2 separate regions of the Homo sapiens genome follow, and region 2 is linked to region 1. The links come from fine-mapping of genetic effects on gene expression. A gene starts in region 1. The other region holds a variant in brackets. All regions are shown on one strand. Distances are from middle to middle.

Region 1 (5,364 bases):
ACCCCCACAGAACTTGAGATGCTCAGGCAAAGACGAGGGCGATAGGAATGTCATTCGGAAATGATTTCACACCGGGTTAGCCCTGCACAGCCAGCCAGCTTGCATCCTCTGGGGCAGAGGACGCCTCTCCGCCTGCAGCAGCCTGCGCGTACCGCTGCCAACTGCCACCGGTTCCTTCACCTTTTATTTACAGCGCAGAGCAAGCTGGTTCACCGGTGAAGCGGGGGAGGCAGGGAATAAGATACAATCTAGATTCTGCTCTTTCTCTGGGGACATAAAGAGGGTCCGACCAAGGAGGAGGGGAAGCCCAGATTGCACCACCAGAGCAGTAGCGCGACCCTCCTCCCAAAAGGGTTCTGCACCTGGACTCCAGCAGAAGCGCCCGGAGAGTCCCAGGAAGCCAGGATCAAGCCCAGCGCCTCGGCCCCGTTCCGCGCGATGGAAGAGGCGCCAACCGAGCGTACTGCACAGGAAATCACTGCCCCCTTCAGGCCGCGTCTCAGACGCTGCGGTCGGAGCACAGGGGCTCGCTCGGTCCGGAAAAACTCGCAAACCCGACCTTGCGCGGCCAGCGATCGCTCCTCCAGACCCGCTCCGCGCGCTCCAGCCCCGGCCTGGCGGTGAAGGTCCGCTCTGGGGCTTCAGGCAGAACCCAAACCGAGGGCGTGGGGAGGGGTCTTGGGATGGAAAGCCCTTGGCTCTCTGGCTCCGCTCCGGACTGCTCTCCAAGTCTGTGCTCCGGCTGCTAGGTCGGATGCTTCAAGCCTGAGCCGTGAGAAACTGCCTGCAGCCGCCCGGCCAACAGCAGCGGCGCGGCCGGACACCACTGCACGTCCGGGACGAGAACTGCCAGGGCACTTTCTGAGCAACTAACCCGAGGCAGGGGTCTCCTGAAATCGCTCTGGCCACAGGCAGCGCCGGGCACGTCCAGGCAGAAGCGCTGCAGAGCCGGTGGCCCCACACTTGCCCGCGCGGAGCGGGCTCAGAGCTGCTGGCGCGCACCAGGCGCCCAGCCACGCTGCACGCTCAAGCCCCTTGGGTTCCGGAGCCTTCCGGACCTCAAAGCGCGGCTCGGCTTCCCTGGGGGCCTGTGAGCAGGCCCGCGGCCCCTCCGGCCCTGGGTGGCCCAGTTTGCAGTCAATGCGCCTGTTCCTCCCACTCGGTACCTCGCAGCCCCATGAGCGGGACCTGGACAGGGACAATCAATGTAGGCCTTTGGGGGTCCAGCCCCCACCTTCTCCACTCCTTTTTCTCTGGTCAAAAGAGACCCCAGTCTTCTATCCCACCCCCACCCCTCCCCACACACACATACACACATAAGACCAGAGGAGGGGGTGCTTGGCAAATGTTACCAGCTGTGCCAGCCAAGCCCAGCAGGACCGCGGGGGTGAACACTGGGCACCAGCCCTCTCTGCCCTCGGCAGGCGCGGGCCGGTCAATCGGGGATCTGACCAAAGGCCGGAGGTTGCCTGTGTCCAAACCACCCACCCCAATGCCCCCCGAAGCCCCGACGGCAGGGGCAGCCGGACACTCACCTCCGTGTCATAGAGCCGCAGGTCGAGGAAGTAGGGGCGCAGGAGTGACTCGTTGCGGATCTGCTCGATGGCCAGTTCCACGGCGGGGAGCACACCGCGCCCGATGCTGCCCTTGGCCACCTCCTTGGTGAGCGGCATGAGGCCCATGATGGAGAGCGGCGGGCTGCTGGGCGGCGGCCGGGGGGCGCCCCGCGCCCAGCCCCAGGCCCCGGGCGCCAGAGGCAGCAGCAGCGGCAGCAGCAGTAGCAGTAGCAGGCGCGCGGGCGGCGGTGGCGGCGGCGGCGGCGGCCCGGGCTGCCCGGAGCTCCGCGGGGAAGCCATGCCGCGCCGCGGGCTGCGGGCGCCGGCTCACTCGGCCCGCATGGCCTGGCCCGGCCCGCCGCCCCGCGCCAAGGTCTTCCCGCGGCGCCCGCGCAATGGCGCCGGCCCGGGCCCCGGCTCCGTCTCGGGCTAGGGTTCCGGCTCGGCTCAGAACGGCCGCGGCGGCGGCGGCGGCAGCGGCGGCGCCCGTGACGGATCAATCACGCCGGGAAGGGGTGGGAGCGAGCGGAGTGCGGGAGGCGGGGAGCAAGCGAGCAAACGCGGAGAGGGGGGCCGGCGTCTCCGCGCGCGCCTCTCTCCAGCGCGGCCGCCCCGCACCGGGCCGCCTCCGCCCGCCCCCGTGCGCGCTCTGAACCGCTCTCCCGCCGGGAGCTGCTAGGCGGCAGCCCCTGGAGCTCGGCCGGGGGAGGGCGGACGGCAGGAAACGCGGGAGGCGAAGGCGAGGCTGCTCAGGGGCGGCTCGGGCCGCCTCCAGGGACGGGGACGAGCCGTGCGCGCCGGGGGAGGGGGAGGCGCTGGCGCTGCGGCGGCCGCGGGGAGGGCCACCTTCCCAGCACACGCACACACGCGCCCCCGGCCCTCCGCTGCGCCAGCTGCCGCTGCCCGCCGACCGCTGACCTCCAGGCACCAGAGCGCCCGGGGACAGCGATCTGGGAACCGGGACCGCGCGCTGGCACACGCAGTGGCCGCCGCCGCTCCGCCGAGCGCTGCCTGTAGCACCTGCACGGTGGTTTGGAACCGCTTCTCGGAGGTCTGGCCGGGAAGGTCTGGGCAGGAGAATGTTCCACGAAGGCGTCCCAGAGGCATCTGCAGCCTACGCTCTCCCGTTCTTTTCTGGCGCCCACGAGCCCCTGACCGAGTCCCGGGGGTCGCTGAAGACGCCCACGGGTGCTCGAACGCCCGTTGGTGCCAGGCTGCCCGGCCTTTAGGGCCTTGGCTGAGGACACCCCTTTCCTCCCCACCAGACGGAGCGACCGCCCTTTGCCAACCCCAAGCAAAGCTGGGGTCCCAACCTTACGTGCGCTACCGCCCCCTCCAGGCATTTGACCTCCCCGCGTCCCCATTCTTGATGGGCCCCGCCCTAGAAGTCTCCCGGGGTGGGAGCACTATCCTCAGGCCAGGGCGGGGCCGCGCGCCCCTGGACTTGGCCCTCTCTCTGCCAGGTCGCACTGGCCAATCTTAGCCAAAGCAGTCCCGAGCCAGATGTACCCGAGTGAGCTGACCTAAGACCTTGGGTTCCTTGTGCCTCTGCATACTTCAAGAATAGGAAACGTGATCATTAATCTATAAAGTCCCAGGGGCTGATTAATGCGAGGAACACAGTAGGACATCAAATCACAAAACATACTTGAGCCTGAACCAGGGACTGTGGAAGATATCGACGACCTTGTAACAAGAATGGAAGTTTGACCTTCGCTGAGTACTTACTGTGTGCCTTATGATGTAATCCCCACAACTGCCCTGTAAGCATACTGTGTTACTCACCCTTACTTTACAGGCGAATACACTGGTGCTCAGAGAGGTTCTGTAGCTAGTGGAAGCACACAGAGCTACTGAAGGACCGGAACCCAGAGCCAGCAGGAACTCCGTGCACAGTGCAGTGGGAGCCAGGGATGTGGGACTGCAAGTTTCCTCTCCAGGAGGAGCACTGCCCTGACTCAGTTGCTCTGGACATCGATTCCCTCCGGCATATGGTGAGGGATTTGGACCGGATGATGATGATGATGGCCACACACCAGCTCTACTGGAGTGAGGCAAGGGCAGCTCTGAATCCAGGCTGAGTTGTTAGGAAGCACAAAGATGTGAGTGGAGGCTGAGCAGAACTACTAGAGAGTACCTTGGACAGCGCCAGGGAAACCAGGCCAAATTCTCTCTGCCCTAACTTCTCTTTCCAGGCTTCTATAGACTCCACCTCTCCCGGCTCCACTTGGCATTTCCTTTTCCCCAAGCTGGAGGGTTTGCATGAACAGAACTCACCTGAGCATCTCCTCCAGGAAGGGAGGAAGGAAGGGAGGGAGGGAAAGAAATGGTCCAAAGGACAGTGTAATCCCCAGATACTCGCTCAACTGCTGTCTCACTTGACATCACAAATATCCTCCAGTCATAGTCTTCTGGCACCTGCCATTCCTCAAACCCTTAGCTCAGGTTTCTGAATGAACATTTTCACTTGGTTTTTTTCTTTTTTCTAATTCTTTCCTTTAGTCATTTGTGTCCTCCTTGCAAGCTGTGCCAATATAGAGTGTCCACTGACACCTACATCTGGGAATAAGTTGAAAGCTGGGTAACTTTGCCTGACATTTACTAAGGGGTTGAAGGCCCTACCTGGCATCCTGCCCTACAGCCCCTCTGTCTTCTTTTATGGTGGGGTGACCTGGCCCCAAGACGCATGACCTGGGATCTGCCCTGACCCAGGGGGCACCAATCTCACTCTCCATCAGCATGGCTCCAGGCCAATCTCTGATCTCACAGCCCACTCCTAATGCCTGGGCATCCCTCTGGTTCCAAGATCTTACTCTGGCCTGGTATTACAGTTTGGGTAACTGCATCCCTGATGTGCTTCCTGAGTCTGAGTTCCTGCCTCAGTCACCAGCCTAGAATGCATGTTCCTCCAGAGCTGGGGTCCAGCGTCTTGCTTTATAATAATCATTCATTCCTTTGACCAGTGTTTTGAAGGGCATGCTACCTGCTAGGCACTGTCCTAGGAGCTGATGATATAGGAAGGAAAAAACCAGAACAAAATCCCTGCCCTTGTAGAATTGACATTCTAGTGGAGAAAGAGAAACAATAAATAGGAAGAAGAAGATATGTTAGTATGCCCATTTATGAAAAGTGCTATGGTGAACAAAAAAGCAGGAAAGAGGATTGAGACTGGCAGAGTGGGGCTGCAATTTGAAATAGGGAGGTCAGGGAAAGACACACTAAGGTGACTCCTCAGCAAAGACATAAAGAAGGTAAGTAAGAGAGACAGGCGAATAGTGTTCCATGCAGAGGAACAGCAAGGGCAGAGGCTCCGAGACAGGAGTGTGCCTGGCATGTTCAAGGAACAATGTGGAAGCCAATGTGGTAGAGCAGAGTGGGCAAAGGGAAAGCAATCAGATCCAAGGTCAAAGGCAGGTAGGACTGTATGGGGCCTCAGCACTGGGAGGGCACATGAAACAGCAACCGTGGGAGGCTACTGGGTGGAGCAGTGACATGATCTGATGTATTTTAAGAGGATCACTCTGGCTGTAGAGTGAAGAACCGTTAGCAGGGGAAAAGAGCGTGAGCAGGAATACCTGTTAGGAGTCTCTACTACAATAAGCACATTTGGTGGCCAGGCCAGGGTATAAGCAGAAGAGAGGATGAGAATTGGCTAATCATTGTGCTTCTTATTAATTGGAATAAAATGCATTGGCCAAGTCCCAGAATGTGGAAAACACTTGATTCCCTTGAACTCATCTACCTTTTAAGAGATGTAATAGAGACTTAGAAAGCAACGTGCTCAGGTTGCACCTCCAGGAAGTAATGA
Region 2 (5,364 bases), 170 kb before region 1:
CTCAGCACTCTGGCCTCTCAGCTCCTTGCCCTAAATTCCAGTGACCTGCACCTCCATGCCACAATGGGTCTTCACACATCACCAGGGTCTGGACTCTCGGTACTTATGCCCCTCTTCTGGCTCTGTCCACAGCCTCCCAACAACCCTCCAGTTCCTTACCGCAGCCCCTCAATGTGCACACGGGTTACCTGCCTGCCTATCCCTCTCCAACACAGACTTCGTGGACCACCCAACTCTTCACACCCCTACTGTTGTCTTCCATCTGGCAGGGCCCCCAGCACTGGACCAAGGCCTCCCTCCACCTTCTCCATCCTGCTCCTCAGTCCCCAGGCCTGCTGAGGGCCACAAGTAGACCGAGGCCACCAGGTAGAATGGGGCTACTTTGAGCTCAAGGTCTCCCACCACCAGAGGGCGTCACTTCCACCCTGAGCTCCTGACTCTGAGCCAATTACGCAGGACGTGAGTTCTCAACGCTGGCGACACACTGAAGCCACCTGGAGAGCTTGGACAGGCTCCAACACCAGGGTCGTCCAGTGTGGTTGCTCTGGGGATGGCCTGGGCATCAGGATTTTCAAAGCTCCCCAGATGCTCCATCCATACAAGGGATTACCACTCAGCAGTAGAAAGAAACAAACCACCGCCACATGCCACAGCATGATGTGCCTCAAACACTGCGCTAAGTGAAAGAAGCCAGACGCAAAAGACTGCGTGTTCTTTAATTCCATTTATATGAAATTTCCAGAAAAGGTAAAACTATTCCTGGGGCTGGGGGGTGGAACTGACTACAAATGGGCACATGGGAATTTTTAGAGTGATGAAGAGTGTTCTAAAACTGGATTGTGGCGATGGTTGCACAAACACATACTTTTTTTTTTTTGAGACAGGGTCTCACTGTCTCCCAAGTTAAAATGTGCAGTAGGGCAATCATAGCTCACTGCAGCCTTGAACTCCTGGGCTCAAGCCTCTCAGGTAGCTGGGACTATAGGTGTGCACCATCATGCCCAGTTAATTTTTGTATTTTTTTTTGTAGAGACAGGGCTTTGTCATGTTCTCCAGGCTGGTCTCAAACTTCTGGGCTCAAGCAATCCTTCCACTTTGGCTTCCCAAAGTGATGGAATTACAGGTGTGAGCCACCACACCTGGCCAACATAAAAAATTTATAAAAAATAATTGAACTGTACATTAACAACGGATGAACTGTATGGTATGTAAATTATATCTCAATAAGGCTATTAAAAGTGAAGAAAAGGAAATGGAAGAAAATCCAAAAATGTACATTTTATTTTGTATTAAAATCAAAATTTCCCTGGTGATTCTAGCGAGCAGCCAGAGTTGAGAACACAATGCAGGAAGCCTCACCACTCACCCCCAGGCTGTGTCATTGATCTCTGGTCCTCCACAGCACAGGGCCCATCACAGACCATGGCACATAGGAGGCCACACTGATTTTTTGAGTGAATGGGCCTGCATTTTCAGTTTGCCCCATGAATCACTGGAGAAGCAAATGGCTATTTAGTGAGCACCTACTACACAGAGATCTTTCATTTCTGTTTTCTCACTTAACCATCTCATCTTCAGTACCTGCAAGGTAGGATAAATAGCCCCATTTTACACAAGGGAAAAGTGGATCTCTATGAGGCCTAGGATCTCACAGCCATCACTTAGCAAGGATGGGCTCAGAGATCAGCCCACCTGGTACCAAATCCTTCCTTCTTTTGTCTCATTTACATCTTTCATCCAGAGGGGGCATGGCAGAGCAAGCTGAAACTTTCCAGTAGCCAATTCTCTCCATGGAACCCTGGTCCCAGCAGCAGCTCTAGATCTGATACATCCTAGGGTCAGCATGGGAAAGTGAATTGCCTGGGGTCACGCAGCCATGCTTGGCCAAAGTGGGCCTAGAGATCAGTACCTCAGACCCAAGTCCTGAGCAGCCTCTGGGTTACCATGGGCTTACCTTGAAACTCAGAGGTTGGAGGTGCTCACAGGAGCAGCTGGTCCCCAGGTGGGATGGCCCTCAGCCTTCTACCCGCTTCCATAGTCCTAATGCCACAGTAATAAGCTCCGTGGGAGTAAAGCCCCTCCACCACCCCCTC[C/T]GACTTCAGGATTTCTTTCACTTGACATTCCTTCCAGTGCACCAGTCCGGAACAGAAGTGCTTGACGTTGCTGATCGACCAGTTTCATAAAAGGAATCCAGTTTCCTTTGCACTCATGAAAAGCTGTTAGCCCCTGGCGAGTTTCCAGGGCCTGCACTCCAGCGATGCAGCCCAGACATTGAGAGAGGGATGCCAAAGCCCTTGGGCACAGAGAGGAGTCAGCTGGGCTGAGAGATTTAAATCAAGAGAGGTCCTTGCCAGCAATACCAGCAAGCAGCATCCTGTCCTCGGGAAAAAAGGTTTCCCACTGAGATGCCCTGAAACCCTGGCTGAGGGCCCCGACACGGCTGTGCAAGGGGAAAGATGTGCTACCCAACAGTCAAGACCTGAGATTACCCAGTGAGGACCATGTAGCGAGGACACACAGCAACAGCCTGAGGGTACAGCTTCCAGCCCTGCCTGGGCTCTTTACCAGCATGCGCCCTGGGGCAAGAGACCTCCCACCCTCTGCAAACCTCAGTTTCCCCATCTGTAAAATGGGAACCATCACTCCTCCTTACAGGGTGGCTGTCTGTGAGAGTTTTTGGGAATCTATAAGGCACACAACCAATGTCAGGGCTCACAATTTACCCCCTTTAGAACCAGTCTGGTGGGAATTTCAAACCTCTTAGGCTATATGCAGGTAGTTCCTATGCAATTCCAGGAAGCTAGAGAAGAAAAGAAGGAGAAATGGGAAGTCTGAACTGAGGGGTTCAGGACCCCAAAATTTAGTCCTGACTTTTCTGTGAACAATCTTTCATGACTTCAGAGGTGCCTTGAAACCTTGAACTTTGTCCCCTTCCCTCTCTGGGCCTTAGTTTCCCCTTCTACAAAATGAGGAGGGTAGGAGATATGTCTCTAAGGGTCCTTCAGGCTCTGACAGCCAAAGATGCTATTAGAAAAAAGCAGGTCTGGCCGGGCCCGGTGGCTCATGCCACTTTGGGAGCACTTTGGGAAGCTGAGGTGAGCAGATCAAGAGGTCAAGAGATCGAGACCATCCTAGCCAATATGGTGAAACCCCGTCTCTACTAAAAATACATAAATTAGCTGGGTGTGGTGGCACGTGCCTGTAGTCCCAGCTACTCGGGAGGCTGAGGCAGGAGAATTGCTTGAACCCAGGAGGCAGAGGTTGCAATGAGCCGAGATTGCGCCAGTGCACTCCAGCCTGGTGACAGAGTGAGACTTCGTCTAAAAAAAAAAAAAAAAAAAGAAAAAGAAAAGAAAAAGGAAAAAGCAAGTCTCTCTAAATCCTAGTAGAGTCCAGTGTTAATGGGGCCATGGGATGGGTCCTTCTTATCCTCCACCATCCACTTGTTTCACTCTCATTTTAGAACATTTCTCGCTTCTCTATGAAGGCGGCCTTTCAGCAAAAGCCTCTTCAGCGTTTGGCAATGAGTCACTCCCGCTGGAGGTCAAGTTCCCTTTGTGCCTCCTCCTAGGGGCTGAGAAACAGAGAGGTGGGAAGATGACGAGCAGTCTTGCCTGGGAAAAGCTTGCCTTGTTTGGATACCCACAGACAGTGGGGCCAAACACTTCCACTTTTCACGCACCTCCAAAAACAACCCTCTCTGTGTATGAACTTTACAGTTTACGAAGCTCTTTCAGATCCATTACTCATTGGATTTTGGCAGAAGCCCTGCAGGGAGGCATGCAAGAAGTTATTGTCCCCATTTTACAGGGGAGGAATCGAAGCTCAGAGAAGCAAGGTAACGTCTCCAAGGTCACACAGCCAATGTATGAAGTGGTCTCTCCTTCCCATGGAAGAGACAGGGGGCAAGAACCTCAGAAGGTAAGTGCAGAGCTGCAGTGGAAACCAGGTCTGCTGATTACCAGCCCTGTTCTACTCCCAACTTTCTTGCCACCCTGCCCGGCCTTTCCCCATTCCCAGGCTGGCAAGAGGCTGTGTGTCTGCCCCCACCGCTCCGGCTGAGGTCTGTCTAGACCCCTGACTCACACATGGAAATCCTCCACACGGCTAAAGTTTGTTTCTCTTGGGCTGCTAAGAACACTTGGTTTGTCTTGTGTTTTTGGAGGCTCCAAGTATCAAAAGCACACATGGGAATAGAAAGGAGAGGAGGAGGCACAAAGCAAATGGGAAAAAAGACAGGAGGCCATTTTGTACTCATCTGAGTGAGGCTAATGTTTCAAATATTTGTTAATATCCACTGTTAGTAAGGATATGTGAAAATGGGAATTTTCAAATGCTGTTGGTGGGACTAGAAATTAGAACTGCCTTTTTGGAAGTCAGTCCTTCTCAAATTTTTAAATGGCCCAGCAAATCCACTTCTAGAAGTCTACTGCCAAGACGCACACCTAGCCATGAGAGTATGGTTGTCCCATTGAAAAGTGGTCAACGTTCAGAGGGGCTGGCTCGGTAAGTTACGATATACCCATCTGACAGAACACCAGGTCCCTTTAAACCATGAGGTTAATCAAGACCTCTAAGATCTGTTGTAAAGTGAAAAAAGAAACATACATGATATGAAGTCATTTGGCTTTAAAACAAATACATTGAAAAAGTTCTAGGCAGATGAACCCCTAAGTGAAAGCAGGAGTTAACTTTCAGAGAGAAAGCATGATTCAGGTGGCTTAGGACAAAGCAACACTTTTACATTTTTTACTACCCATATTTTGGCTTTTTTTTCCCCCACAACAAAACACATACACAAAACAAAAAAATTGCCTACCATATATTAAGGTGTGTTTGTAAGTCACTTAGAACAAACAAAACTCTGTACCCCATCCAAGGTGACATTGGCATCTTCGGTCCAAGCCAGCCCTTCCCCAAAACTCTCCTCACAGATGAACACACCCCCTGGTAGAACTTTGTGATCTTAGATGGTCACGACAGCATCAGTAACAAAGACAAGCCCACAGGGCCACTGAGGGAATAAGCCACACGAGGTAGCCAATAAAAAGAATGAAAGGGAAGGTTCACTCCTGATGATGGTTTCCACCAGTCCTATGCACAGTGAAATTCCTCAGCTACCAGCTCTATTTTGTCAACGGTGAAACAGCTTTGATCGCACTAACCAACACATGCTTAAAAGCCCTGTGACAGTACCCATCCCTGACTAAACCACATTGCCTTTTGCTAGATGACAGCAGCAAGCAGTAAGGCAGGCCGTGTCCACACAAGCCGAGCGTACCTCAGAGAACCTCTGAACGTCTTGCGTCAGCGTGCCCACGCGCTTCCACTGGTAGTGCTTGAGCAACTTCAGAATGGCTGGAT

What was found. PIP is the estimated chance that this variant, and not a neighbour inherited with it, causes the effect.
Region 2: its variant is the best candidate, but not a certain one, in a credible set for the expression of GABBR2 in lung (TOPMed, PIP 0.69).

Annotation. Positions count from the first base shown.
Region 1 is chr9:98,706,882-98,712,245 of GRCh38, forward strand. It overlaps GABBR2 (gamma-aminobutyric acid type B receptor subunit 2), which reads right to left and starts at 2,054. Exons shown (of 19, transcript NM_005458.8): 1 at 1,536-2,054. The coding sequence starts at 1,856. RefSeq lists enhancers at 1-251, 823-1,393, 3,146-3,440.
Region 2 is chr9:98,536,592-98,541,955 of GRCh38, forward strand. It overlaps GABBR2 (gamma-aminobutyric acid type B receptor subunit 2), which reads right to left. Exons shown (of 19, transcript NM_005458.8): 3 at 5,282-5,364. Among named protein-coding and RNA genes, the nearest start is that of GABBR2, 170 kb to the right of the region's middle. The variant C/T (reference allele first, on the strand shown) is at 2,094.